Linked DNA regions of Homo sapiens. The protein of the gene in region 1 purifies or fractionates together with the protein of each later gene. This does not show direct contact. Each region holds a gene or a part of one and is shown on either strand. Other genes may lie near its edges. The genes, in order: SLC9A5 and PRKAB1.

Evidence for each region.
Region 2: the proteins of SLC9A5 (region 1) and PRKAB1 purify together in Homo sapiens (affinity purification with mass spectrometry; 2 studies listed by BioGRID and IntAct, with this or other methods). This does not show direct contact.

The regions. Positions count from the first base shown.
Region 1 is NC_000016.10:67,261,349-67,276,718, forward strand, and holds the end of SLC9A5 (sodium/hydrogen exchanger 5 isoform 1 precursor), read left to right. Parts: intron 1-863; coding exon of another isoform or gene 864-920; exon of another isoform or gene 921-941; intron 942-1,046; exon of another isoform or gene 1,047-3,003; coding exon 3,004-3,174; exon of another isoform or gene 3,175-3,691; coding exon 3,692-3,758; exon of another isoform or gene 3,759-4,739; coding exon 4,740-4,877; intron 4,878-9,389; coding exon 9,390-9,862; 3' UTR 9,863-10,843; downstream 10,844-15,370. UniProt on the Homo sapiens protein: Plasma membrane Na(+)/H(+) antiporter. Mediates the electroneutral exchange of intracellular H(+) ions for extracellular Na(+) in 1:1 stoichiometry, thus regulating intracellular pH homeostasis, in particular in neural tissues.
Region 2 is NC_000012.12:119,658,861-119,674,485, reverse strand, and holds the start of PRKAB1 (5'-AMP-activated protein kinase subunit beta-1), read right to left. Parts: upstream 6,354-15,625; 5' UTR 6,242-6,353; coding exon 6,083-6,241; intron 2,186-6,082; coding exon 2,022-2,185; intron 523-2,021; coding exon 429-522; intron 147-428; coding exon 32-146; exon of another isoform or gene 1-31. UniProt on the Homo sapiens protein: Non-catalytic subunit of AMP-activated protein kinase (AMPK), an energy sensor protein kinase that plays a key role in regulating cellular energy metabolism.

The DNA.
Region 1 (15,370 bases):
AAAAACCTTTCTTATTCAAAATTCCAGTAGAACGAATAAAATAACTCATATTTATCTATCAACCAGCACTGAAAAATCAGTGCATGATCAATTCTATTACATTCTGCAGCCCTACCACATCCCTCCCACACTTTATCTTAAAACAAACTCCAGACATCGTATCACATCATCTCAAAATATTTCAGTATGTCTCTCTAGGTGGCAAGAACTCTTACATCCAGTCAGTATTCAATAAATATCTTTTCCCCGCTGGATGTTCAAATCAGGGTCTAAATAAGTCCACACTTAGCATTTGGGAAATATGTCTCTTCATTTAAAAAAATCTATAATAGTTCTTTTTCCCCTCTCTATCTCCCTTGCTATTTATTTATTGAAGAAGCTGGATACTTTCTCTTGGAGAATTGCACATTTTCTAGATTTTGCTGACTGTATTCCAGTGGTGTTGTTTAACATGTTCCTCCGTTCCCTATATTTCCTGGTTGTTAAATCTAGAGGCCTGATCAAATTCAGGGACATTCAATAGGTATGCTATATATTTTCTGTGGTGTCACATCAGGAAGTACATAATGATTTGGTGAGGTGTGTGTGTGTGTGTGTGTGTGTGTGTGTGTATGTGGTGTTTATGTATAAGATTGGTCAATGGGTTCAGTCCAATCGGTTCATGTGTAGTCTGTTTTTTAAAAATCTGGAATAAGTTTGTGTGTATCCTGTTAAATGTCATCTTATTTGCTTTAGCCCATCATCCCATTGTTTGGTTCCCATGTCTGCCACCAAATGTCTCCTTCTTAGATTCATATCATCTGAAAATTTGTTAAGCCTGTTAACTTTGTATTCATCCAAATCCACATAAACATGTTGAACAGGATAGAGCTGAGGACAGAGCCCTGTGGCATGCTACTAAAGACTTTCCTCCAGACTGACATGGATCAAGCATTTTTGGGGTATGGTAACTCAACCAGTTCTGAATCCACTTAGTATGATAACACAATCCACAATTTCTCATGTTCTTCATCGAAATATCATTAGAGAGAGACAGAGATATCTAGTTTTCAGTTAGAAAGATAAGATTATAGTTTAATAGAGAGATAAGGGCTGGAGAGAAATTTGGAAGCAATCTGTATCAGGTTTTGTCACCTGGCTACCACAGAATCCCCTGGGGAACTTCCTGGCTTCACCTGGAGATTCTGATTCTGTAGTCTGGAGTGGGACTAAGAATCTGTGTTCTTACTAAGTTCCCCAGGTGATTCAAATGCAGCTGGTCTGATGACTGATGTTGGGGGACCACAGATCTGTATCACTGGGATAGCTGGGGCAGAGAGAATGGATAAGTTCTCTGAGGAGAGTGTTTCATGGGGCGGGAGGAGGGCTAAGGATAACACTGAGGAGTGCGCATGGGAGAAAAGGAAAGAGAGCCAAAGACAAGGAACCCTTGGAGAAGCAGTGGCAGGTGGTGCCTCAGGCCTGGGGCAGAAAGAGGGCTGGATGCTGCGCAGAGGCCTGGCCAGCACCTAGGCAGAGCCCACAGCACTGGTGACCAGCAAGAAGGCAGCACTGTGGAGTTGTGGACCCTGGAGTTGCATTTCTGGTTTTTAAGGAAATAGTGGGTAGGAGAGAAAGTGTCAGAATCAAATTATAAAAGTGTAGCAGCAAAAGGGAGACAATGGTGTTCAAGGGAAGACTTTCTTTAAGGAGGCAAGGGCAGGAGCTTGAAAACAGAGGGGAGGGAGCCAAGTGGTGAGGTAAGGAGTGAAGATACAGGAGAGTGGAGGAATAGGAGGCAGCAGGAACTGCTGGAGGCAGGAAGGAGGGAACTGAGCAATGTGGAGGCCGGGGCTGGGCAGCAATGAGCCTTGTGAAGGAGATGGACCCCTTCTCCCCAGGAGAGAGGGTACCTCCTGGTGCATAGGTAGATGAGGAGGGCAGATGGAAGACTTGAAGGGGGCTCTTAGAACTGGTTCAGGGAAGCAGAAAATATGAGATAAAGGGACCAGACTTGGGATTTGAGGCAAGATAAGATGATTTGGCAGGCACTGGGAAGCATTTCAGGGGATTACCACTAGATGATGAAAAGGTGCTAAGCAAGGAGGGTAGAGGCAGAGGCAGTCTAGGTGAGTGTGTAGCGGGCTTGGTGTTGATAAGAGTTAAAAAGAGCATGGCCAGGCGCAGTGGCTCATGCCTGTAATCCCAGGACTTTGGGAGGCCAAGGCAGGCAGATCACTTGAGGTCAGGAGTTCGAGACTAGCCTGGCAACATGGTGAAACCCTGTCTCTACTAAAAATACAAAAATTGGCCGGGTGTGATGGCAGGCACCTGTAATCCCAGCTACTCGGGAGGCTGAGGCAGGAGAATTGCTTGAACCCCAGAGGCGGGGGTTGCAGTGAGCAGAGATCGTGCCATTGCACTCCAGCCTGGGTGACAAGAGCAAAACTCCGTCTCAAAAAAAAGAAAAAAAAAAGCAGATGATGGGGGTGATCCTGAATTATTGGGACTGAGAAGGTCCAGGGTGTCAGGGGAGATAGTTATGAAAGTTCAAAGTGCAGCCCAGGATATCATGGTGGTTCTTGTAGAAATGGCTAGATAGGAGATTCCAGCTGGAGAAAGGATCCTGTGTAGCTAGAAGGGGGCAGGTAGGCTGGGTGTGTGGGCGAAGCTCAGATAAATGGAGGTACAAAGAAAATGTCCCCCATGTTGTCACAGTAGTAGAACAAGACAGAGGGTCACCTTCAAACCAGAGAGAATCGGGAAAGGATGGCAAGGGTTGGGGAAGGCCAGGTTTGGGGGAATAAGTTCTGGGATAAAGGGAAGCTTTTCCCAGGGAACTGAGAACACAGGGTCTCTGGCTGGGTTCCTGTTGTATTTTTTGTTTTGTTTTTCAATCCATTGTTAATTCTGGAAAAGCTGGGCTGGCAGGTCCTGTGGTGAATATGTTGGGGCTGTGGCCTGGGGTTCTTGTGGGAGGCCAAGGCATCCATCCTCATAGCCAGGCGGGGCTGTCATTGCCAGTACAAAGCCAGCTGCAGTCGCCACTTCATCTCAGAGGATGCGCAGGAGCGGCAGGACAAGGAGGTCTTCCAGCAGAACATGAAGCGGCGGCTGGAGTCCTTTAAGTCCACCAAGCACAACATCTGCTTCACCAAGAGCAAGCCACGACCCCGCAAGACTGGCCGCAGGAAGGCATGTCTTCCCTCAGGGACTCCTCTTGGGAGCTGGAGGCTGACAGCAAGCAGTTTTGAGCCCCCTAGTGTTAGGATCCAGCTTAGGGGGAACCCCAGTTGGGACAGTCCTCAGGGGCTTGATGACTACAGCAGTTTGGGTTCCCTTTTAGATGTTCCTGGAGTCCCAGAAGGGTAAGGTGAGACCTTCAGAGGGGGAGCAGCCTCTTGGCCATGTGGTCACCTGCTGGGAGGCAGCAGGGCCGCCTACCAAAGATGAAAAAGGCAGGAGAAAAGGAGATTCCTTTGAGGGGCAACTCCATGAGCTCCTAAGTCAGCCCACGCTGATGCATCCAGATTTCTTACTGGGGCATGGGTCACTCTTGCCTGGTTGGCCAAGGGATGGTAGAACCACTGGGACTGACATAAATTCCCTCCCCTGCTGGGTTAGGAAAACTTGTCCTGTTGACCCCACCAGATGACAGGGTTGGGGTGGGAAGCCGGGGCCAGAGGCTCAGGTTTTCTTTCTTGGTCCTCAGAAGGATGGTGTGGCGAATGCTGAGGCTACAAATGGGAAACATCGAGGCCTGGGCTTTCAGGACACAGGCAAGCAGGGAGCAGTGTGGGATTGAGGATGGGAGGGAGGAGGGAAAGGGCTGGGGCTTGCCAGCCAGAATCCTGGAGGACCCGCTGTAGGGTGCATTCAGCACCGTGACCTGGGGCTCTTCCTCCAGGGACTTGATTTCCAAGTTGGAAATGTTCAAAGCAGTTATTAGACAATGCGTGACAGGAGGCATCTGATTGCTAACTATGGGTTACAGGCCCCGAGGACTTGGAAAATGTGTCATGGAGATGGGGGAGTTTGGTCTGGGCCTTGGAGGATGGGTGGACTCTGGGGCCCAGTGTCCTGTCTGCAAAGCCAATTTTGTTTTGTTTTTTTGAGACAGAGTCTCACTCTGACAAGCTAGAGTGCAGTGGTGCCATCTCGGCTCACTGCAACCTCTGCCTCCTGGGTTCAAGTGATTCTTCTGCCTCAGCCTCCCAAGTAGCTGGGATTACATGTGCACGCCACCACACCTGGCTAATTTTTTTTTGTATTTTTGGTAGAGACAGGGTTTCGCATTGTTGGCCTGGCTGGTCTTGAATGCCTAACCTCAGGTGATCCGCCTGCCTCAGCTTCCCAAAGTGTTGGGATTACAGGTGTGAGCCACCGCACCTGGCTGCAAAGCCAGTTTTGTATGAGCTGAATGTTAATGGGCCTTCCAGCAATCCAAGTGCTCATGTTTCCAGTGGATCGTGGGATTTGGGGCTGAAAGAAGAGGATGGGGGAGCTGGAAAGTGTGGTCCTCATGACTTCCTCCGGGGACTTAGCTTCCTCTGGTCGCTTCCTTGGGCTCCGCAATGTCAGTTCTCTTCCTCCCAAGTCCCCACCTCTTAGGCCAGTGCTTGAAACAGCCAGAGGAGAAAGCAAGTGTCTCTGCCAACGTGTGTTCTGCCTAGGGAGACAGGGAGCTGGCTTGGGGCTGTGTAGTCCCAACAGGCAGCTGCCAGCCCAGGATGCCTGACTCTGCTCTTGTCTCTGTCCAGCTGCTGTGATATTAACCGTGGAGTCTGAGGAGGAGGAGGAGGAGAGCGACAGTTCAGAGACAGAGAAGGAGGACGATGAGGGGATCATCTTTGTGGCTCGTGCCACCAGTGAGGTTCTCCAAGAGGGCAAGGTCTCAGGTAATGGCTTCCTCCCTGCCCACCTCCCCTCTGGAGCAAGCTGGTTTCCTCTCTCTTCACTCATGGCCTCTACTCCAGACAACTCCCTTTTCCTATTCACTAGTTTATTCATCAGCCAGCATTTGCAGAGCCTCTTCTTCATACCAGATGCCCGACATAGGTAATATTCAACCCTCACAACAACCAAGATGGGGAAACTGAGCTTAGAGAGCTTAAGAGACTTGTGACTTGTCCAGCATCACATAGTAGAACCAGAATTTGAACCTGACTCATCTGACTCCCAAGCCCACAGCCTTTCTTTTTTTAATTTTTAAATTTATTTTATTTTATTTGAGACAGAGTTTTGCTCTTGTCATCCAGGCTGGAGTGCAGTGGTGCGATCTCAGCTCACTGCAACCTCTGGCTCCCGGGTTCAAGCAATTCTCCTGCCTCAGCCTCCCTAGTAGCTGGGATTACAGACGTGCACCCCCACGCCTGGCTAATTTTCATATTTTTAGTGGAGATGGGGTTTCACCATGTTGGCCAGGCTGGTCTTGAACTCCTGACCTCAGGTGATCCACCCACCTTGGTCTCCCAAAGTGCTGGGATTACAGGCGTGAGCCACCATGCCCGGCCTATTCTTTTCTTTTTTTTTTTTTTTTTAAATGCCATTCTTGCATTGCTATAATCTTTTTTTTCTTTTTCTTTTTTTTTTTTGAGACAGGATCTCACTCTGTCACCCAGGCTGGATCATGGATTGCACAATGGCATGATCATGGCTCACTGCAGCCTTGATCTCCAGGGCTCAAGTGATCCTCCCACCTCAGCTTCCCGAGTAGTTGGGACTACCGGTGTGCACTAGCACACCCAGCTGTTGTTTTTTTTTTTTTTTTTTTTTTTGCTACGGGGTTTTGCTCTTGTTGCCCAGGCTGGAGTGTAATGGTGTGACTCAGGTCATGGCAACCTCTGCCTCTCGGGTTCAAGTGATTCTTCTGCCTCCGCCTCCCGAGTAGCTGGGATTACAGGCATGCGCCACCACACCCAGCTAATTTTGTATTTTTAGTAGAGATGGGGTGTCTCCATGTTGGTCAGGCTGGTTTCGAACTCCTGACCTCAGGTGATCTGCCCTCCTCGGCCTCCCAAAGTGCTGGGATTACAGGCATGAGCCACCGTGCTCAGCACCCAGCTGATTTTTAAAAATTGTTTGTAGAGATGAGGTTTCACTGTGTTGCCCAGGCTGGTCTCAAACTCCTGGCAGTCTTCCCTCCTTGGCCTCCCAAAATGCTGGGATTGCAGGTGTCAGCCACCGTGCCCACCCACACCCTTTCAAGGCCATGCTGCCTCCCTTTGTAGTCTAGTGAGGAATAGGAGGTGGTGAGCAAACCATGGGCTCTGTTGAGACCCATGCCCTCAAGTAGATCCCCAGGTGAAGGTGGCAGCCTGACCTGGAGGAGCAGCCTGAATTCATCAAAATGGAGTTATTGTGGACAAAAATACAGTATATAAGCATTTTTCTGTATGTATAGAGACCTAATTCACTCATATTGTTAGTATCACTGGTGGTTGGCACCCTCAAGTGTCTTTAAACATTTTTTATTATAGAAAATTTCAAAATATACAATGATAGAACTATAAAATAAACTCCCATCTATCCATTATCCAGCTTCAATAATTACCTACTCATAGCCAATCTTATTTCACCTAAACCTCACCTATGCCCCACCCTCCACTGGGTTCCTTTGATGCAAGTCTCAAATATCATATCACTTTATCAATAAATACTTCAGTACATGTCTCTAAAATATAAGGATTCTTTTTTTTTCTTTCAAGATGGTCTCTCTCTGTCACCCAGGCTGGAGTGCAGTGGTGCGATCATAGCTCACTGCAGCCTTGAATGCCCCGACTTAAGCAGTCCTTTTGCCTTAGCCTCCCGAGTAGCTGGGACTACAGGCACACACCATCATGCCCAGCCTTTTTTTTTTTTTTTTTTCTGGTAGAGATGAGGCCTTGTTATGTTGCCCAGGCTAGTCTTAAAGTCCTGAGCTCAAGTGATCTTTACTTCTCAGCCTCCTAAAGTGATGAGATGAAAGGCGTGAACTACCATGCCCAGCCAGATAAGGATTTTTTTTTTTTTTTTTTTGAGTTAGGATCTCTCTTTGACACCCAAGCAAGAGTGCAGTGGCCGGATCATGACTCACTGCTTCCTCAACCTCTTGGGCTCAAGCCACTCCACCCGGCCTCAGATAAGGATTCCTGATGCATGCCTCTAGTCAATTGACCCCAGGAGGCTGAGGCTGCAGTGAGCTATGATCACGCCACTACACTCCAGCCTGGGCAACAGAACAACACTCTGTCTCTTGGGGAAGAAAAAAGGATTCTTTAAAAAATATGTAACCACAATGCCTTTCCCATATCTAAAAATCTGTCATCAAACATCGTTCAAATTTCCCTGATTATATATATATATATATATATATATATATATATATATATATATATATATATATTTTTACAGTAGGCTTGTCCAATGTCCCTTTTAACCTATAGCAGTGATTCTCCAGGGGGATGGTGGTGGAGTGATTTTGCTCCCCCAGGGGACATTTGGCAATGCCCAGAGACATTTTTGGTTGTCACAACTGGGGAGGATGGCCTTGGATGGAGGGGTAGAGGCCAGGGATGCTGCTAAACATCCTACAATGAACAGGACAACCCTCACCAGCAAAGGAGTAGCTGTCCCAAAATGTCAAGTGTCAACTTTGATAAACCCTGATCCATAGTTTCCCCCAAACCCCCTACTTTTTTTTCTTCACGATGTATTTACTGAAGAAACCTGCTTATTTGTCCTACAGTCTTTCTCTGTCTGGATTTTGTTGGTTGCATCCCCAAAGTGTCATTTAATATGTTTCTCTGTCTCTTAAATTTCCTTTAAACCAGTAAATCCACAGGCAGTGGCTCACACCTATAATTCCAGCACTTCGGGAGGCCAAGGTGTGCAGATCACCTGAGGTCAGGAGTTTGAGACCAGTCTGGCCAACATGGTGAAAACCTGTCTCTACTAAAAATACGAAAAAAAAAAAATTAGCTAGGCATGGTGGTGGGCACCTGTAATCCCAGCTACTCTGGAGGCTGAGATGGGAGAATAGCTTGAACCTGAGAGGTGGAGACTGCAGTGAGCTGAGATCGTGCCTCTACACTCTAGCCTAGGTGACAGAGCAAGACTCCATCTCAAACAAACAAAAAAACAAAAAACCTCGCCTCATCAATTATTTGGTTACTTTGAGGTACAGTTCACCCAGTAAATGCTTGATTCTTTCATTTATCAGTTTTCAGACCAAAGAATTCATTCCCTAGCAGCCTGTAAAGGTGAATACCAAAGGTTTTTTGTTTTACACTTTTTGTTGTTGTTATCGCATTTTAATATTCCAGGTCTTTCAAGAGATACCATTTTACTTTTAATCATAGCATCAATACATTTCACACATGTACTCAAACAGAAGCTTATTGGGCTGCTCAGGACTTTATCGATGAACAGATACAGGCTGTACTGTACTTTGGAGAGCTGGGGTGGTTGGTGGCCAGAGGAATTCTCTTTCCAGGTTTCCTCCTTCAGAACCTCAGATTTCCTGTAATTCAGCCCCGCCCCTGCAGTTCTGGGATTCTTAGCTCAGGTCCCCTATGCCTCGTCATCCCCTTTGCGGCAAAGCTCTGGCCTGCTGTTAGGTTTGCATGAGCTCACACTCCTGGGCTTTGTCCCACCAAAGGGCTGTGGTGGGTACTCAGGCAGGATGCTCAGCAGAAAAACCTTTGGCCTGTAGCCTCCAGGTCTTTCTTTCCCTCTCTGGTGGCTGGCGTTTCTCCCTCGCTGGTTGGCTGGGATGGGGCTTGGCAGGAGGCTGTTTCAGAGACCAGTGCTGCAGTAGGGTGAGGGGACTGGAGATGGGGCTTCCTGCCTGGCTCCTGCTTTTGCTATCTTCTTATTTTTTATTTTTATTTATTTTTTATATAGAGTCTCACTCTTTCACCCAGGCTGGAGTGCAGTGGCGAGATCTCGGCTCATTGCAACCTCTGCCTCCCGGGTTCAAGTGATTCTCTTGCCTCAGCCTCCCGAGTACCTGGGATTACAGGCGTGTGCCACTGTGCTTGGCTAATTTTTGTATTTTTAGTAGAGACAGGGTTTCATCATGTTGGCCAGGCTGGTCACTAACTCCTGAGCTCAGGTGATCCACCACCTTGGCCTCCCAAAGTGCTGGGATTACGGCATGAGCCATAAGCCAACTTTCCTTATTTTCGTTTCTTTGATGAAAATAATGTTCAATTTCTTGAGCAACTACTGTGTGCCCGGCCCTGTGCTAGGTGTTGGGGATAGAGTGGAGAGTAAAACAAGCTGTGGTACTTCGCCTCAGCAAGACATTCATCCGATAATCGCAAAAATGGACGGCATATGGAAACTGTGGCATGAATTTATAAGAATGTGCTTATACTTGAGATTTCCACTGTATTGGTAATGAGTTCATGTGTACTCTCTGTCCCCAGGAAGCCTTGAGGTGTGCCCAAGCCCACGAATCATTCCCCCCTCCCCAACCTGTGCAGAAAAGGAGCTCCCCTGGAAGAGTGGGCAGGGGGACCTGGCAGTGTACGTGTCCTCGGAAACCACCAAGATTGTGCCTGTGGACATGCAGACGGGTTGGAACCAGAGCATCTCATCCCTGGAGAGCCTAGCGTCCCCTCCCTGTAACCAGGCCCCAATTCTGACCTGCCTGCCTCCCCATCCACGGGGCACTGAAGAGCCCCAGGTCCCTCTCCACCTACCTTCTGATCCACGCTCTAGCTTCGCCTTCCCACCGAGCCTGGCCAAGGCTGGCCGCTCTCGCAGTGAGAGCAGCGCTGACCTCCCCCAGCAGCAGGAGCTGCAGCCCCTCATGGGCCACAAGGACCACACCCATCTCAGCCCAGGCACCGCTACCTCCCACTGGTGCATCCAGTTCAACAGAGGCAGCCGGCTGTAGCTCAAGGCCTCGGGGAGGAGCAGGAGGTGGAATCCCTGTGGGAAGTGCTCCCTGGGTGATGGGTAGAGCCCTCGAAACTTGACATGGGGCCAGAAGGGCCTGGGTTGAAGTAGTAATTGGGCTTCCTTGGAGCTAGTCAGAGGGGTCACCTAAGCTGGTCCTCACAGGGGCCTTTCTCACCACCTCCCTGCTCCTAACCCCTGCCACTTTCTGTTTCATTAAGGCCTCTACTCTGGCTCAGGACCCAGTCCAGGCCTTCTACGGGCTAGGCCCAGAGACTTGGGTTGCTGGTCCCCCTTCCCTAGTGGGTTTTCCCGGGGACTCTATAGGCAGCTGCTCCTGCCCGCAAAGCAAGAGCATCATTCCTATTCTTCAGTGGATGCCAGCCTTCCCTGCCCCAACTCCCTCCCCAGCACTGGGTCAGTGGTGTCCTGGCAGTGAGGCTCCGTGAGGGGCTGGCCCTTAGAGGAACTGGGGTGGGAGGTGGGGCAGGCCTCACCCTTGGGCTTTGCTGCCCTGTTGGGTCAGCTACCCATAGTCCATTTTTTTAGGGCAGTGGGAACCTCTGCCTCCACTTCCTGCTTTAGCCCCTTCCCTTTGCTGCCAGGTATTGGGGTAATATTTCCTCCTTTTCCAAGACCAAGGCCAAGAGGCTGGGCCAGGCTTCAGTTCAGGCCTGTTGCTTAACTGGGGTCACCCTGGGATCTGCTGCTCTGGGTCTAAGTCTAGACCTTTCTGATCCTTGGGTCTGGGTTTTTTGAGGAGGGGACATAGTGGCCTCTGGGCTGCCATGTCACCACCTGAACATTCCCCAAACAGAGAAGGAACCCAGCATCTCAGGGCCACTGCTCCATTGCTCTGGGGGCTGGGATGCCTGGCTAAGCAGGGGCTGACAGGGTGGCAGGTGACTTTCTAGGGATCAGCACCTGCCCTGTGTTTTGTACCTTGAACCTAAGATATATTAAACATCTCTCAGATGGATGGGTGTCTTGTGTCCATGTGTCAGGGGGTTCTTAGGGTGGGGGGCAACAGGGGCATCTGGTGAAGGAGGTGAGAACCCAACTGCCTGCCCCAGGGATTGAGAATGGAGGGGAATCCTAGGCAGGACTATTCATCCTTCTGGTCCCCTGTCATGCATTCCCCAATACTTTTCCAATATTGTCCCCTTAGCAGGGGTCCTGCAGTGGTGGTCAAGGGGATCACTGTTTTGGCATCGAGTCACAGAACTAAAAGTCTGCAAAATGAGAAAGGCTAGCAGGGAAAGACCCCAGAGGTCAGGTGCCAAGCTGTCCTGATGCAGCCACCACACACCTAGGACCAGATGAGCATTTCTTGAAAACCTGGATGCAGGTACAGGACACATGAACAGAGGTGGCCTTTTGCACATGACAGACAGGAAGGCAATCTCAAGGGCTCACGGGATTTGGTTACCGTGTTTATTTTTTATTTTTGGAGACAGGATTTTGTTCTATCACCCAGGCTGGAGTGCAGTGTCACAATCATAGCTCACTGCAGCCTGGAACCCCTGGGCTCTAGGAATATTCTCGGCACAGTCTCCCAAGTAGCTAGGACTACAGGTGTGTACCACCATGCCTGCTAAATTTTTAGTTTTTGTTTTTATTATATTTATTTATTTTTAGAAACAGGATCTCACTCTGTCACCCAGGCTAGAGTACAGTGGCATGATCTCGGCTTACTGCAACCTCTGCCTCTTGGGTTCAAGCAATTCTGCCTCAGTCTCCTGAGTAGCTGGGACTAGAGGCACATGCCACCATGCCTGGCTAATTTTTTGTATTTTTAGTAGAGACAGAGTTTCACCACGTTGGCCAGGCTGGTCTCGAACTCCTGACCTCAAGTGATCTGCCTGCCTCAGCCTCCCGAAGTGCTGGGATTACAGGTGTAAGCCACTGTGCCTGGCATATATATATATAATTATATATAATATATATAATAATATATATTATATATTATATATTAATATAATATATAATATATATAATATATATTATATATAATAAATATATAATATATAATATATATTATATATAATAAATATATAATATTATATAATTATATATTATATAATATATATTATATATATTATATAATATATATATTTTTTTTTCCTGGAGGTAGGGCCTCACAATGTTGCTCAGGCTGTTCTTGAACTCCTGACCTCAAATAATCCTCCTGCTTTGACCTCCTCAAGTGTTGGAATTACAGGTGTGAGCCACCTCACCTGGCCATCTCTGAGTGTTTATGATGCAAATCAGATAGTGTGGGGTCCAGAAACATGAATAGAAATCCCTAGATGGCCGGGCACAGTGGCTCATGCCTGTAATCCCAGCATTTTGGGAGGCCAAGGTGAGTGGATCACCTGAGGTTGGGAGTTCGAGACCAGCCTGACCAACATGGAGAAACCCAGTCTCTACTAAAAATACAAAATTAGCTGGGTGTGGTGACACACGCCTGTAATCCCAGCTACTCAGGAAGGCTGAGGTGGGAGAATCACCTGAACTCAGGAGAATAGCTTGAACCCAGAAGGCAGCGGTTGCAGTGAGCCGAGATTGCACCATTGCACTCCAGCCTGGGCAACAAGAGCAAAACTCCATCTCAAAAAAAAGAAAAAAAAAGAAAAAAAAGAAATCCCTAGATAAGAGCAGTCCCAAATCCAATTCCCCTGGTGTCTAAAGGACTTAAAACAAAAACAAAAACTTTGGCCCAGCACAGTGGCTCACGCCTGTAATCCCAGCACTGTGGGAGGCCGAGGCAGGTGGATCACCTAAGGTCAAGAGTTCAAGACCAGCCTGGCCAACATGGTGAAACCCCATCTCTACTAAAAATAACAAAAATTAGCCAGGCATGGTGGCGCTCACCTGTAATCCCACCTACTCGGGAGGCTGAGGCAGGAGAATGGCTGGAACCCGGGAGGCAGAGGTTGCAGTGAGCTGAGATCGTGCCACTGTACTCCAGCCTGGGGGGCAGAGAGAGACTCCATCTTAAAAAAAAAAAATCTTTGAGAGCTGGGCACAGTGGCTCATACCTATAATCCCAGCACTTTGGGAGGCCAAGGCAGGCGGTTCGCTTAAGGCCAGGAGTTCAAGACTAGCCCGGGCAGCATAGCAAGACCCTGTCTCTACCAAAAATCCAAAAAATTAGCTGGGCGTGATGACTCGCAACTTTAGTCCCAGCTACCCAGGAGGCTGAGGCACAAGAATAGCTTCAACCCGGGAGGCGGAGGTTTCAGTGAGCCAAGATCGCACCACTGCACTCTAGTCTGGGTGACAGAGCAAGACTCCATCTCAAAACACACACACACACACACACACACACACACACACACACACACCAAAAAAACCCCATATATATATATATACACACACACACATACACACACATATATACACACGCATATATATACGCATATATATACACACACATGTATATACACATATACACACATATATACACATATACACACACATATACACATATATACACACACATATATACACATATATACACACACATACACACACATATACATATATACACACATATATACATATATACACACATATATATACATATATACACATATATATACACATATATATATATATATACACACACATATACTGCACTGCACTGACTAGAGTGCAGTGGTGCGATCTCGGCTCACTGCAACCTCTGCCTCCCGGGTTCCAGCCATTCTCCTGCCTCAGCCTCCCGAGTAGGTGGGATTACAGGTGAGCGCCACCATGCCTGGCTAATTTTTGTTATTTTTAGTAGAGATGGGGTTTCACCATGTTGGCCAGGCTGGTCTTGAACTCTTGACCTTAGGTGATCCACCTGCCTCGGCCTCCCACAGTGCTGGGATTACAGGCGTGAGCCACTGTGCTGGGCCAAAGTTTTTGTTTTTGTTTTAAGTCCTTTAGACACCAGGGGAATTGGATTTGGGACTGCTCTTATCTAGGGATTTCTTTTTTTTTTTTTTTCTTTTTTTTGAGATGGAGTTTCGCTCTTGTTGCCCAGGCTGGAGTGCAATGGTGCAATCTCGGCTCACTGCAACCGCTGCCTTCTGGGTTCAAGCTATTCTCCTGATTCTCCCACCTCAGCCTTCCTGAGTAGCTGAGATATATTTGAGATATAAGTCACATACCATAAAAATTCACCCATTTTAAGTGTACAGTTCAGTGTTTTGAATATACCCATAGGGTTGTGCAGCCCTTACCACAATCTAAGTTTAGAACATTTTCATCATCCCCCAAAAAACCCTGTACTCATTAGCAGTCAGTCCTCATCCCTGGCCCTCCTCAGCCCTAGGTAATAACTAACCTACTTTCTGGCTGTCTGGATCTGAAGGACTTTTGACACACTTGGAAGGTTATACTTTTAGCCAACTTACCTTTACTTTTTCTGCATTATGCGCAGGGAAGGTGTGATGAGAAGGAAGAGTGACTTGGGCTTTGCCCTTAGGTTGTTTACAGGCCACAGTGATAAGGCCTCGTAGTTAACTAGTCGTCAACAGTTTATTTTTTTAATTTTTATTTTTTACTCTTTTTGAGACAGTCTCAGTCAGGTCACTCAGGCTGGAGTGCAATGGTATGATCTTGGCTCATAACCTCTGCCTCCCAGGTTCAAGCAATTCTCCTGCTTCAGCCTCCCAAGTAGTTGGAATTACAGGTGCCCACCACCATGCCCGGCTAATTTTTTGTATTTTTAGTAGAGACAGGGTTTTGCTATGTTGGCCAGGCTGGTCTCGAACTTCTGACCTCAGGTGATCCACCCGCCTCGGCCTCCCAAAGTGCTGGGATTACAGGCATGAGCCACTGCGCCCGGCCGTAGTCAACAGTTTAGAGTCAACAGCCCCAGCTGTCACTCACAAGTGTCATTCTGGGTGTGTTACATGCTCTCTCTGAGCCTCAGTGTCCTCATCTCTCAAATGAGATAATCATACTCACTTCATAAGGCTGCTGTCAGGATTAAATGACAAAATTTAATGGGAAGAATCTACCCAGGGCCTGGCTCAAGGTAAGGGATCATAAATGTCATTATTTGTCGGGCCGGGTGCGGTGGCTCATGGTTGTAATCCCAGCACTTTGGTAGGCCAAGGCGGGTGGATCCCTTGAGGTCAGGAGTTTGAGATCAGCCTGGCCAACATGCTGAAACTCCATCTCTACTGAAAATACAAAAACTAGCTGGGCATGGTGGTGCATGCCTGTAATCCCAGCTACTCTGGAGGCTGAGGCAGGAGAATCACTTGAGCCCAGGAGATGGAGGTTGCAGTGGTGGGGGCAGATGAACATGGTGGGTTTGACAGGGAGGCAGGCAGGTGACTTGGATGCAGGAGAGCAAGTGCGTCAAGCGCTCATCCATGGGTCCTTGCCATGTGACTGGGCAGGGTGGCCTGAGCTGAGAGAACTTGGCTGGGGTAGTCTTCGTGAAGGAGATGCTGCACCCAGGCCTCAAATGAGGAAGGATTTTGATTAGGGGAGATGGGCATGG
Region 2 (15,625 bases), on another chromosome or scaffold:
CGCATGTGGTATAAAATAACTGTGTTCATACCAGACACATCGGAGCACTTTTGGGAATCCACCATTAAAGCATCAAATACTTCAAAGTCAGTTTTCTTCACTTGAATGATGTTGTTAACTGTGCCAAGCTGGCTGGTTACTATGGGCTGGGAAGAGACAGATAGGCAGAAATCATAACGTGGAAGGTCTGCGGAGTTATTCTTCAGAGGACTTGGAATTCCTGGCTGGAAGGCCTCATCTCCTGGCTAGCCACCCTGCTCATCTTGGTCAAGTATGCCAACTGTCTGACAGGTAGTGCTGCTACTCAGCTCTGCCACACACGGGGACTTTTACTAGCTGGGCAAAGGGACCTAGCGGCAATCTCTTGGGAAGGTGATTTGTTTGGAATGTGCGGGCACCCAGAGGACCAGAGGTGGGAGGAAGAGTACCTCGGAAGGGTCGTGCGTCCACTGACCATCCACAAAGAACTTGTACTGATGCTCTCCTTCCGGCAGATCCAGGATGGCTACAAAGTTATTGTGGCTGCAAGGAAAAAGGAAGCAGAGGACTTCCGTGGGGTGGGCTGCCCCCCGAGCTTACTTGCCAAACCAGCTACAGAACAAAACGTTTCCACATAAAACCAAGAGTTCAGCTGCAGGAGAACAAACATTTTTAGCCCATTTAGACAATTCAGCATAATGACCTCAATCTGAAAAGGCTATAAGGAAGCAGCAGTGCGACACAGTTTCCTGAAAACTCACCTTACTCAAATACCAGGAAACCACATCCCTAATGTTAAAAGGTCAACAGTCAGGCATTTGTGCGTCTCAAGCTCGCAAGGCTCCTGGATGCCAAGGAGGATGACAACACAAGATAAACAGAAGCTGCCTCGTTTTACCCTTTGTCACTTTGCCTTGGGCAGGAGAAGGGATCAATTGAATAGGAAGCTCAAATGTTCTCTAAAGAAACTTGCCTAATGACTGAAAAACCAAACTCCGGAAGAGCCCCTTCACTGGGTTGTTTTGTCCCCTGGCTTGAACTGACCTGTGACTGCTGTGCTGAGTGGCTCCCTCCTTCTCCAATGGAAACGCTGGAAAGCAGGCAGCCCCTGACAATAGGCCTGACACTTTCTCCCTCATTTTATCAAGAATACTCACTAAAGGTGTTCTCTCACTGACAACTTAAGACAGAAGTCCATGCTGGGGTTCCTGATAAAATGTCTTACTATAATCCTTGCTAATGACACCTACATAGCATGTATTTTTCTTTTCTTTTTGGAGACAAAGTCTTGCTCTGTTGCCCAGGCTGGAGTGCAGTGGTGCAACCACTGCTCACTACAGCACTGACCTCTCAGGCTCAAACAATCCTCCCATCTCAGCCTCCCGAGTAGCTGGGGATACAGGTGTGCACCACCATGTCCAGCTAATTTTTAATTTTTTTGTAGAGATGGGGGTCTCACTATGTTGCCCAGGCTGGTCTTGAACTCCTAGCCTCAAGCAATCCTCCTGCCTCAGCCCCCAAAAGTGCTGAGATCATAGGCATGAGCCCCCATGCCCAGCCAACATGTACTTTTCAAACAAAGTATTACGCAGAGTCAAAGTTAGATGAAACCTCAGAGATGATCTGGTCCAATATTCCCTCTTTACAGAAACGAACGCTGAGGCTCAGGTTAACTAACGTTAGGTGACTGACAGCATGGCCAATGTGGGCTCAAATGTGGGTTTCTAAGATTCCAGCCCAGTGCTCCCTTACTGCATTAAGACAGATTTTTGTGTTTCTGTGGAAAAGTCCTGACCGAACAGATAGCTGAGGATCTGAAGTGAAAGATGTCTGTGACACAGAAATATTCTCTTTCTTCTGTACTCTAAACCTAGAGACCACCAAGGTTTAACATTTGAACCTTAAGACTTATTAAGCAAAATTATTTTTCCACTAGGCATCCATTTTATAGAAACATCCATTTTCTGTTCTCTCTCAGAGATGTTTTAGAAAGAAGAGAATTTATGTTAAGACAAATATGTGAACACTCCCCAGGCAATTACCTTCTGGTGAGGGGAAGTTTACTCCAGTTGTTGAAGGACCCAGATAAGTAAACTTCCTTTCCGCCCCCCGTCCATCGAAACACCGTTGGCCGAGCCTGGGCGGGAGCTTTATCATTCACTTCCAGATCATGCTGCCAGGCCAGGAATTCCTCCTTCTCTGGTGCCTAGAAGCAGAGCAGTTTACTCAGAAAGCCATAAGCGAGCTCCCTACAACAGACAATATTGACAATTCATTCTAAAGACGCAGCTGTTACTATCTTGGTTCATGGTTAGGATCGGAAACTTACTAGTGGTGCCTCAGTTTCCTTGCCTGCAAAATAGAAATATATTTTTTAAGGTTGTGAAGACTGAGACAGTCCATGTAAGTGCTCTATATAGTGTCTGACACAGTGAGTGCTAATTATTAGCTATTGTTGTCATTAAAGAAGTTGACATCAAAATTCTAGAAGAAGCTATGAAACACACTTGGAAGGGGCTACTACGAATCCAAGACTAGCTTAATGTCATGTTCCTCCCTTAATCAAGCAAGATTTGAAGTACAGTCATGTGCATGATGTCTTAGTCAACGACGGACTGTGTATATGGTAGTCCCATAAGATTATACCATATTTTTATTGTTATCTTTTCTATGTTTAGATACATTTAAGTACACAAATCCTTAAATATACTTGTGGAATAAGTGTCTACAGTATTCAGTAGAATAACATGCTGTACAGGTTTATAGTCCATAAGCAACAGGTTACACCATATAGACTAGGTGATACGGTTTGGCTCTGCGTCCCCACCCAAATCTCACCTTGAATTGTAATCCCCATAATCCCCACGTGTCAAGGGCAGGACCAGGTGGAGGTATCGATCATGGGGGCGGTTTCCCCATGCTGTTCTCTGACAGTGAGTGAGTCTCATGAGATCTGATGGTTTTATAAGCATCTGGCATTTCCCCTGCTTGCTCTCATTCTCTTCTGCCGTCCTGTGAAGAGGTGCCTTTTACCATGATTGTAAGTTTCCTAAGGCCTCCCCAGCCATGCGGAACTGAGTCAATTAAACCTCTTTTCTTTATAAATTACCCAGTCTCGGGTATTTCTACATAGTAGCATGAGAACAGACTAGGTTTGTGTAAGTACACTCTATGATGTTCACACAATGATAAAATCACCTAATGATGTATTTCTCAGAATATGTCCCTGTCATTAAGTGATGTATGACTGTACATGAAAATTTAAGAGGAACAATTCTAGAGCTGTCAACTTGAAAATAGGCAAATCCAGATTTTGAGGAAGGGAAAAACTACTCACAAAGTTCTGTCTAGGGACTGGGGAATAAAGCAAGACAAAGACTGAACCCTCATTAGGATAAATGATAACCTCCAGTGTGGTAAGCTCCGTATAACTGAGGTATTCCAGAATAAGAAATAAACTCATCCAAATCTATCTGGATGACATATGTAGTCATGCACCTTTTAGATTTTTTCCCAGTCAGAAGCCAAAGACTTAAAAAGAGCAGAAGGTTCAGGCTGGAAAAGACTCTTCAGGGAGTTAAGCAGGCTTCTAGCACCTTCATCTCAAATACCGACCTCAGCTTATCCAAATGATGCCTGTATTCTTTGAATTCTAACAAGATCTACATATTAAATAACAGACTGGAATCACTTCACACTAAGGATAACTAATTATGACCAAAATAGCACCCTAGTGTAGTTAAAAGAATTCACGACTTTTTTGGTATCTGGGGATTTCAGTAACTTCTAATGAAGTGAGAATGGACGCTGCTTGAAATCATTCCCCATAGATGATGTGTGTGCTCAACATTTCCTGGAGGAGTTTTGGAATAGTAACAGAACAAATACTTCTGAAGAAAGTAGTTTTGATTCCTTTGGTGTCTTAAATAGCCTTCTTGGGACCAGGGACCAAAATTACCTCCTGGGGAAAGGACGTCAAGTCATTAGAGAAACATGATTCTAAAGTTCACTTTGCACACAGCTCTTCAAGAATGCAACAAATTCAGAGAGCAAGTTCAAACCACAGGTTGTAGGGCCACATAAAAGCAGCCTCTTTGTAGTCAGGCTCAAAACTAAGATCCAAAAGAAGGTGTGAGATGTGATCACCTCGCTCAACATGAGGACAAACACAGATGGAATGAGCTGCCAAGCAATTAAATGGATGATGATTAACATGAAATTGGATACTAACAGGGTATGTTGGGCAGAGGGCAGCTTTATCTTTCCTAAACCTACTTTGTTCCTTGAAACAATTAGTTCCTTTTGGACATAACACATAAATACCAGCTGCCAGAATCACTAAGTGTCCTTGGACTGAGCCCTGCGGCTGGAAATATCCACCATATGAAGGTGGTTAACAGGAGTGTGGTTGAAGCAGGAGTTAAGTCACCTGAGTTTTTGAATTTAAACAGGCTGCAGCAGGAAGAAAAATGTTTGCACTGGCCTGCTTAAGCACGATTAAGTCATATTTAAACAACACTAGAGAGAAGTTCAGTAGCTGCTGGCTGCCTCCTTCAGACAGACCCTCACCGCCCACTGACCTCTAGAAGCTGAAAGACTTTTCTATGTACGCTTTAAAAAAAAGCAGGGTGAGGCCGGGAGTGGTGGCTCATGCCTGTAATCGCAGCACTTTGGGCGGCCCAGGCGGGCGGATCACTTGAGGTCAGGAGTTCAAGACCAACCTGGGCAACATGGCGAAACCCCACCTCTACCAAAAATACACAAAATTAGCCAGGCATGGTGGCACACGCCTGTAGTCCCAGCTACTCGGGAGGCTGAGGCAGGATGGTTTGAGTCCGGGAGACGAAGGTTGCAGTGCCCCGAGATTGTGCTACTGCCCTCCAGCCTGGGCAACAGAGTGAGACTCCATCTCAAAGAAGGAAAAAAAAAAAATAAGTAGGGTGGGTTCAGTGGCTCACGCCTGTAATCCCAGCACTTTGGGAGGCCGAGGCAGGCGGATCTCCTGAGGTCAGGAGATGGAGACCATCCTGGCTAACACGGTGAAACCCCGTCTCTACTAAAAATATAAAAAATTAGCCGGGCGTGGTGGCGGGTGCCTGTCGTCCCAGCTACTCGGGAGGCTGAGGCAGGAGAATGGCGTGAACCTAGGAGGCGGAGCTTGCAGTGAGCCGAGATCGCGCCACTGCACTCCAGCCTGGGCGACAGAGCGAGACTCGGTCTCAAAAAAAAAAAAAAGTAGGCTGAACCGGCCAGCACCGTAGCTCACGCCTGCGATCCCAGCACTTTGGGAGGCCAAGGCATAAAGATTGCTTGAACCCGGGAGTTCGAGACCAGCCTGGAGAACATTGTGAGACCACCGTCTTTTTTATTTTTATTTATATTTTTTTTTTGAGACGAAGTCTAGCTCTGTCGCCCAGGCTGGAGTGCAGTGGCGCGACCTCGGCTCACTGCAAGCTGCGCCTCCCGGGTTCACGCCATTCTCCTGCCTCAGCCTCCCGAGTAGCTGGGACCACAGGCGCCCGCCACCACGCCCGGCTAATTAGTGAGACCACCGTCTTTTAAAAAATAAGTAGGGTGAATCAAAAGTGTTGGGCAGAACTAAACACCTCTGGCAACTGCCGTCAGCTGTTCCGCTCTACTTTCAGCTTGTATATGTACCTGGTTTGCCTCCAAAATGGATAAATTCCCAAACTAACTTTTACAAAAGCTCCAGTTTGTGTAAAGGTGAGGGAATTTGTCTCAAAGCAGTGCAATTAATTACACCTAAGAGAAAAGCAGAAGCTGGGGCTCAATTACTGTTAGCTCGACTCTGAATTAATTAAGAATTTGAAACTCTGTCCCAGAGCTGCTTTCTCCTTAATGATGTTAAACCAAGTGAGCACCTCCTCCCTCAGGGTGACTTTCTCATATTGGTAATTAGACACAGGTTCTTGGACCGCTAAGAGAACTCTTACAGGACCATCTGGCTTTTAAGTGCACCGGGTAATGTACCACCTCCCTCTCCGTTCTGGTGTTTTTCGAAAGGATGTGACGGGAATCTAGTGGAGGGTTCCTCTCCTCAACATTAGTCAAGGGGAATCGGGTTCCTCCACACCGCTCGCACCTTGATTTCCTCGGAGTGGAAGAGGTCGGCGTCTTCGGGGCTGTCCATCAGGATCTTGGGCCTGTCCCCGTCCTTGGTGCCCCCCGAGCTGTCCCTCCGGGGCGTCTTATGGCCACCATGCCGCTCCAGCGCGGCGCGCTCACTGCTGGTATTGCCCATGATGGGGGTCTGCGGGGACACAGGGAAGGCGGACGGCGCCTCACTGCAGGAAAGGGACCCTGAGCAAGGGACTCCCGGAACCGCGGGTCCCAAGGAGCCTGCGGAAGGAGTCGGAGCACCAGGACACCACGCCCCTCGGGCCGGGAGCCGGTTCCGGCTGAGTCGGCAGGGTTGCCGAGCTCTCGCAATCGCGCTTTACCTGCCCAGGCAAGCCGCGGCAAGAACGCAAGGGGCGCGAAGATAAACCGACACTTTCCCAACCGCTTCACCACCCCTCAGCGACTTCCGCTTCCGGCGACTCCGTAAGTCGGCCCGGCCTAGGGCGTGGAGGTGGCGGCGGCCAGCTAAACGCGCGAGGCTATCTCGATTCCATTTCCGCTTCCGGTCTTGAGCGGTGCGGTAACAGGTGCCCCGGGCCGTCTCTGCAGGCCTCGGAGCGCGCAGTCGCAGTCAGCAGCCGGCCGCCCAGGGCCAGGCCCAGGACGAGGCGCTGCCGAGGGCCGGCAGGGGGCACCCCAGCGCGCGGGCAATCTGAGCCGTTCATGCGCTGGGCTGAATAATGCCATTTAGCTATCTTTGCTCACTTATAGTTGATTCTACACTCTGCAGCCAGAGGGATCTTTCTAAAATGCAAATCTGATTCAGAAACTCCACTTCTTAAAGCCCTTTTAATGCACGTGTTCTCACGCTTTACAGTGCATTAGGTTAACCTGGAGCGCTTGTTAAATGCATCCCCCACTGCAGACCTGCAGAATCATGATTTCTACAGATTAGGGTCGGGGGTGCAGGCAGTCTTGCAGGTATTTGAAAAAATGGCAGACCATAAGATCTCTGGAAATTTCTTATGTCTAGTAGGTTGGGGGTTGTAAAATGCTGGAGTTATTCGTGTATTTTTATTGAGTGTGCAATCTTTTGATAGGTAATTTTGCAAGATATCTTGTAATCACTTCGGAAACATCCTTCTGCATAAGATGCATTAGCGTTTGTCATTTACTCTGGTCAGTGCTTCAACAAGAAGTGCATACAAATACGGTAGTAAAATATTCTCATCTTCTCATTGTCAGTCATTGTCATATTTTGTGGGTTTTTTGGTGTGTGAATATCTCAAAATACTTTGCATTTGCCGGGTCAGGTCATGCATTTCACCCACTGAACATTTATTTAGTACCTAAAAAAGTACCAGACATTGTGCTAAGGAAATGAGGAACACAAGATGACTAAGATAAGGTTTCCTGGGGGGAATTCAGCAGTATGCATCAAAATTTAAAAATGCACCTTCATTTTGACACACAATTTTACTCCTAGGAAACTTGTGCAGAAATACACACATGAAAATTATTTACAAGCATTATCTACAAAATATTTACATGCAAAAATATATTCTAAGATGCACTTGTCACCCCCCATGCCCCCATATATTTTAATTTCTGAAACTGGATGCTTTTTACAATAATGGAATCTTACACTTGGTGAAATAAGGAAATGAAAAACTACAAAATCCTAAAAGTTGTTCAGTAGGAGAATGGCAAAATGAATGGAATACATTCATTTTGTAGAATACCAAGCAACTTTTAAAAAGGGAGAAACCATTTTTAGGTCACTATGGGGAAGTGTCTATGATATTGCAAGGTCCGGAAGCAAGTGAGAGAACAAGTTCAAGGGCAGGAGCTCTGAATTCAGCCTGGCCATGTTCAGATTCTGGCTTTACCATTTAGTAACTGTCACCTTAGTCTCTTCTTTTGTGAAATGGGAACAAAAATAACACCTACTTCATAGGCTTGTTTTGTGAATTAATTGGGAACGTGCATAAAAATGCTGAGCATAGCACTTGACTCTTAGTAAACACTCAATAACTGTTAACACTTTTATTAGCACTATTAGGCTAGCAAATGGAAAGTTCTGGAAGGGTATACAACACATTGTTAATAGTGGTCTTCTGTGGGGAGAGGAGGGAGATTGCAAATAGGAGCAGACAGAAAAGGGACTTTCACTTTTCATTTATATAGTTCTGTATTTGAAAAGTTTTCTATTGTGAGGATGTACTACTTTTTAATTTAAAAAAATAAGATATGGTTCCAGCCCCAAAGGAATTAATACAGTACAGGCTGGCACCGACCCACAGAAAAGCAATAATATAGCTAGGTAAGGGATCCTGTGGGAGCCCAGAAGGGACTTAAGCCAGGCCAGGAAAAGGGATGGGAGCCAGGAAAAGGGATGGGAGCCAGGAGGGTCTTCCTGAAGCTGATGACTGAGAATTTGAATGTATTCAGTATAATCAGAAATGTTGAATGTGCTTGCTGAATTAAATAAGCTAAGATACTGTGGATGACCCAGGATATCTTCTTTGAGCTGCTTTTCTAATAGTGGCCCTGACTTGGTTACATGAGACAGTGGGGTGTTGAGTTTTGAAATCTCTCCCAAACAGCCGGAGAGATAAGAAAGAACACATGAGCTGTGGATTCTTTATCTGAGCTATGCAGATGCTTTGATGCATGAAGAAAGTTTTAAGACATCTGCACTAGCTTGAATAAGATAACAGTGAAAGCATGGGTGGCCCTTGATGTCAAATACAATCAACAATATCCTGAGGATGCCACCAACTGCTGATTGGAAACTCTTACCACATTGTATCAAGATTTCATGACAAAGAAACTAACATTGGTATCTATCAGCTATTGACCCCATATTGAAAATCATGGGTAGGGTAGACTCGCCAATTACAAGTGTCTACTTGGGTCCCAGCTGTGTCTCTCTTGGGTCATTTTGTGTTACTTATCTGTGTAACAATGGTTTGTGACTTTCCTAAGCATCAGAGCGTCTCATCTTTCTCTGATTCTCTGCTGATATGGATGTCAGACCATTCCATCTTGGGGGCTGGAGGTGTGCCAGGAAGTATAACTGTTAGCACATTGCTGTGTAAAAGGCATCATCTACTCACTGCTGTCTGTCTGGCACCAGGGCAAAGACAAATGATAAATACCCTAGATTCTCCCCCAAACAAACCAGGGCAATTTTAACACAGCCACAGCTAGGAGTACCCCTCCCCCACCCCCGCAACCCTGGCTTCAAATTCACTCCAGCTCCAAGCACAAAAAGAAGTAGGTTTTCAAGTCCTTAAAAGTCACCCAGAGTGAGATAAAATCTCATTTATCCTTAAATTTATGATTAAAAGGGTTAAGGATAATGTTTTGGGGCCTCCTCCATAGGATGGATTAGAATCAGTATAGCACTTCTGAACTGACCAACCCATTTGTTTTATATAAGGAAGAGTCTAAGTCCCAGAGATCGAACAGTTTTGCCTGAGGTCACTCAGATGATCATAGGTCATACTGAGACTGAATTCTGGATCACCTGGCCACTCCCCACTACATCATGGTCATGGCACCTCATCAAAAAGACCTTTGGTTCCCCAGCTGGCCTGTCTACAAACATTTGTACTGTTCTGAAGAACCCTCCCCATCTAAGAACAGCCAGGGCTCTGATCACAAATAACTCAATGGCAATATTGAGTGCCAATTATGAGCCAGGCACTGTTGTAACTCTTGGTTACAACAGTGAACAAAACCAAGTTCTTGCCCTCCAGAGGAAAGAGTCCACACACATATGCACATGTGGTGAGAACAGGCAGTGTTCTCACTAAACATCGGTAGCTGGAGGAAGAAATTTCACATTTGGACTATGCTGTAGACTAAATTGTATCCCCCCAAAATTCATACATTTGCACTCCCACTCCCAATTTTATAATGTTTGGAGGTGGGGCCTTCAAGGGGTAATTAGGGTTAGATGAGCTCATGAGAGTGGGGCCCCCATGATGAGATCAGGGTACTTATGGGAAGAAGAGACGCTGGAGAGCTTGCTCGCATGCTGTCTATTCACGCCCATGCTCAATGGAAAGGCCATGTGATGACAAAGCAAGAAGGCGGCCATCTGCAACTCAGGGAAAGAGCCCTCACCACACATCAACCATCCTGGCACCCTGATTGTATTAGGCCATTCTTGTATTGCTATAAAGAAATATTTGAGGTTGAGTAAGTTATAAAGAAAAGAGGTTTACTTGGCTTATGGTTCTGTAGGCTGTACAGCAAGCATGGCTCTGGGTATCTGCTTGCTTCTGGTGAGGCCTCAGGAAGCCAAGGGGGAGCCGATGTATTGATGTATCACATGGCAAGAGTGGGAGTAAGAAAAAAAGTGGGAGGAGGTGCCGCACGCTTTTAAACAACCAGATCTTGTGAGGGCAGCACCAAGACGATGGTGCTACACTATTCATGAGAAGTCCACCTCCATGATGCAGTCACCTCCCACCATGTTGGAGGCCTCACCTCCAACATGGGATTACATTTCAGTGTAAGATTTAGGGGGAAAAGTATCCAAATTATATCACTGATATTAGACTTCCAGCTTTCGGACCTGGGAGAAGTAAATCTCTGTTGTTTAAGCCACCCAGTTGATGATTTGTTATAGCAGTCTGAGCTGACTAAGACAGACTCAAATGTGTGTGGGCTGCTAGGATAGAATTACAAGCTTACTTTTAGGGCTTAACCAGATTTCCACCAGGCCTTCTGAATTTTGCCTAGCCAATGTAAGTAACACTGCCAATGTTTGAGAAACTTGTCCATCTTTTCTTGCTAGACATTCTTGTGTTCTCTTTGCACTGAGATGTGAATATTGTGACAGAGAGTCATCAACATAGAATTAAAAGAAGTTCATTCTACAGCATTTGGTCTACAACCTTAATTGGCAAATAGCCTCATTTTGTGACTTTTAGGTTGTCTGAGAAAATTCTGTTTCTTGACCTGGGTTGGTAATTATTAACATGTTTGCCTTGTAGTAACTTACTAAGCCATACATTTCTTTTGTGTAGTTTCCTGTATCTTTATTTTATTTTCAATAAAGTTTTTTTTAAATAAATAGCTTCACTCACAGGGTAAGCTGAAACCTAGAAGGGAGAAGTGCCCAGTTCAAGGTAACACAATGTTCTTAATAAAGTTCACCTCAAGTCTATCCTCTTTTTTTTTTTTTTTGAGATGGAGTTTCACTCTTTTCACTCAGGCTGGAGTGCAGTGGTGCAATGTCGGCTCACTGCAACCTCCGTCTCCCGGGTTCAAGCGATTCTTCTGCCTCAGCCTCCCAAGTAGCTGGGACCACAGGCGCACCCCACCACGCCTGGCTACTTTTTGTATTTTTAGTAGAGACGGGGTTTCACCATGTTGGCCAGGCTGGTCTCAAACTCCTGACCTCAGGTGATCCACCCTCCTCGGCCTCCCAAAGTGCTGGGATTACAGGTGTGAGCCACTGCACCTGGCATCTCTATCCTCTTTTAAGAGCTTTGAAGGAATGGAGGAGAAAAGGATGTACACTTTCTACCCCTTTTCTAGAGGACAAGTGACAAACTAAAGCAGTATCCAGGCAAAGATCCAACGGAGGTGAAAACAATGAGAGGAAGTCTGTCTCTGTCTCATCTCTTTAAAATGTAAGCTCCCAGGGATTTGAATATCAAAGTTTCATAATCACTTTAACATATGCTGTTGGGACCATCATACCCCATCTGCATGTGCCCTTCTGCGCATGCCCCAAACTTCCTAACTGTGAGCAGGTGCAACTCTGAGGGCCTTCTGGAGAAAGCTTTGTCGACACAAGTGGGAACCCAAGGGGACCAGAGAAGACACCCTGAGAGAAGCCCTCAGCCAACCACAGAGGAGCCAGTTCCCTTGCCCCTTGGATGTGCTAACTCTAATGAAGCAGCGTCATTTTTCTGGGGTAACACCCGAGGTTCGATGTCTCATGCTAAGGAAATTGAAGACATGGCCATGCAAGGAGTGGGTTTAAGAGTGGAAAGTTAAATAGATGAAAGAAGGAAGAGAGCTTCCTCATGCAGAAGAAGGGGTCCTGAGTGGGTTTCCCTGGTTTGGGGCAAGGTGTGGTTGGTTTTAGGGATGAGCGTGAGGAGATGGTATATGATTTACATGGGGTGTAGTGGATTGGTTGGACCAGATGTGCCATTTTCATAGCCCGTGAAGAGGCTGGTCATCCCACTCTAATCTTTTATTATGCAAATGGAATTTTAAAAAACCTGGCTGGTGCCATGTTATCTGCACACGTGGCAACAAAGAAAAGGGAAGAGGGAACCTCCATGTTGAATATACCTGGTTTCCAGCTATCTGTTTTCTATTGGCACAGCTGCTGGTATTTACCTATGCAAGCCTCTAGCTTGCTTATCTATGCTTGCAGCTTGATTTTTCAGGCTGCTTTTTGTTAAAAAAAGAAATGATTTGGAGACTGCGTTTTTATTAAAAGAAAAACCTTACTGAGGACTCTCTTACCCTCACTAACTGTCTAAATAATTTCTTTTTAGCTCTCGTATAACTAAGATATATTCCCTACCGTGTCTCAGAGGTCCCCAGTGGAAATGCACCCTAGATGTCCACAGCAGTAATTGGATCAAGGAATTCATTGATTATCTTCCTTTCCTTTTCTTTATCTCTTTTTAGGAGCACCTTCCAAATAAATACTCAGAAACACCTCCCAAGACACACTAATTGCATGAAAATCCTAGTTCAACCACATAGGTTACAGATGAGGAGGGACAATAGCTTGCTGAATTATAGAAAAAGTTAGTGGTCATAGATCATAATTTGGATCTTATGTCTTGGTTTCTGGTCCAGGGTACTGTGAGATTATCATTCTTCTTGATATGATGAACCATGGAGACTTTTAAAAAACAGGGATCGGCAGCATTATCATAATAGACAGAAGGTGGAAAGAATCCAAATGTCCACCAAGAGATGAGTTTGTAGGCTGGCACAGTGGCTCATACCTGTAATCCTAGCACTTTGGGAGGCCGAGGTGGGTAGATCAACTTGGGGCCAGGAGTTCGAGACCGGCCTGGCTAACATGGTGAAACTCCATCTGTACTAAAAATACAAAAAATTAGCTGGTTGTAGTGGCGCACACCTGTAATCCCAGTTTATTGGGAGGCTGAGGCATGAGACTTGCTTCAGCCTGGGAGGCGAAGGTTGCAGTGAGCTGAGATTGTGCCACTGCACCCCAGCCTGGGCGACAGAGAAAGACTCTGTAACAACAATAACAAAATGAATTATAAACAAATTGTGGTATGTTCATACAGTGGAATATTCTTCTATCACAAAAAGGAATAAAGTACTGTTACATGTTACAATGTGGATGACCTCAAAAATATTAACATTATGCTAAGTGAAATAAGCCAGACACAAAAGGTCATATATTATATGATTCCATTTATATGAAATATACAGAATAGATATATCCATGTCAATAGAAAGCAGACTGGTGGTGACCACGGGCTTGGCGGAAGAGGGAATGAGGGCTTTCTTTTGGAATGATGAAAATGTTTTAAGACTTGGCATAGATGGTGGTTCCACAACATTGTCAATGTACTAAATGCCTATGAATTGTTCACTTAAAAATGTCTACTTTAAAATTAACATTTATGTTGTATGAATTTTACCTCAAAGAAAATAGGGTTAGTCCTAGAACAAATGGTAGAGGTGTACAGTTTATCTTTTTTCCAATTTATTTTCTGCAACTGTCTTACAAAATAAACCTCTCCGCACCCTGTCCTTCCCTGTAAGTGTCTCATGACTCATGTCATCTAGCCCATCAGAACCTAACTAGTTCATGGCACTTGTTCTAGTTAATATTGATTTTTTCAGAGGCCTTCAGTTTTCTAATTGCATTAATTCATTTCTTTATCAATAACTTTTTCATGGCAAAAACTCCTATCCACCGGGCACTGTGGTAGACACTGGGGAGAGAATTGTGGGCAAAATCAAACCCAGGCTCTGTCCTGAGTGTTTACGATCTAGTAGGGAAGAGAGAAATTAATCGAACAATCATCCAACAGTCTTCTGTGACAAACGCTAAGAAGGAGAAGTGTGACCTAGTGAGAAGGATGTGACCAAGTCCTGAGGTCAGAGGAGGCTTGCTGAAGGAAGTGACAATCAAGTTGAGATTTGGAGATTGTAGGTGTTAAAGTGAAAGTTGTTTATCAATCCTTATTATGCACTCGGCATTGTGTTTGATGTATGAACTCATGTAATGCCACCAACAGTCCTTTGAGGGATCTACTATTATTACCACTTGCATTTTTCAGGAGAAAATGAGGCTCAGAGAGATGAAGTGACTTATTCGAGGTCACACAACTAGAAAGTCATGAAACCAGCATTCAAATGCAGGCAACCAGACAGATGTCAACATTTTAGCCACCACGGACAGATCATTGAGTGAGGGATGAAATCATTTTGGGTGGGCCAATGGATTGGGCTGATCTAGATTATAAGTATAAAGCTGGAATGGTCATTCAGAGAGGGAGAACAAACTAGGTGTTCAATTGTTTTAATATCTATTAAATTTTCTAGGCTAGATGCAGTGGCTCTCAGCAGCTTGGGAGGCCGAGGCGGGAGGATAGCTTGAGTCCGGGAGTTTAAGACCAGCCTGAGCAAGCTGTCGAGACCCCATCTTTATTATATTTTAAAAAATAAAAATTAAAAAAATAAAAAATTTTCTAACTACGAATCCATGTTTGTTTTTTCTTTTCTTTTTTTTCAAAAGAGCATCAATTTCCCAACCATGTTTCTTATTGTTACAAAACTCAATAAAAATCTGAAAGTTGGAAGCCATGACTTGCTGGGTGTAACGTACTAATCAAGAAGGTGGAATCAATTATTAAATAGTCAATAGGGTTAACAGCAATGAGTGATCATGGCAGGCAATGCCCCTAGCATCCCCTAGGTGGCAATAAAGAGCAACAAAGATTATTCCTATGGCCTTTCAAAAAATTAAATGTATGTATTTTAAAGTATGGATGAACATGGTTAAAAACTTCAAGCAGTATGGGAGGGGGTACAGAATCAAAAACAAAAGTCTCCCTTACACCTTCTCCTACATCATTAATTCCTTTCCCCTCAAATAACTTGTTGAGAGTTTCTTGTATACTTTTTGGGGGTATATTTTGTTACAATTATTATAATTATAATTTCCTATAATTATAACTATAGAAAAAGTACTTACATCGCTCTTCTTTAAAAATGCAAGCAATTAGTACTTTTTTTCCTTAGCATATCTTTCCATATCAGCATATACAGCTCCACCTCATTTTAAAATTTTAATTAAAAAAATTTTTAAGTAAAAAAAAAATTTCTTAAAAGAGACAGGGTCTTGCTATGCTGCCAGGCTGGAGTGCAGAGGCTAGTCACAGGTGCAATCATGGCTCACTGCAGCCTCAAAGTCCTGGGCTCAAGTGATCCTCCTGCCTCAGCCTCCTGAGTAGCTGGGACTACAGTTGTGTGTCACCATGTCCCGCCACCTCAGTTTTGTAATGACTGCAGATTTCATAACAAGAAGAGGTCT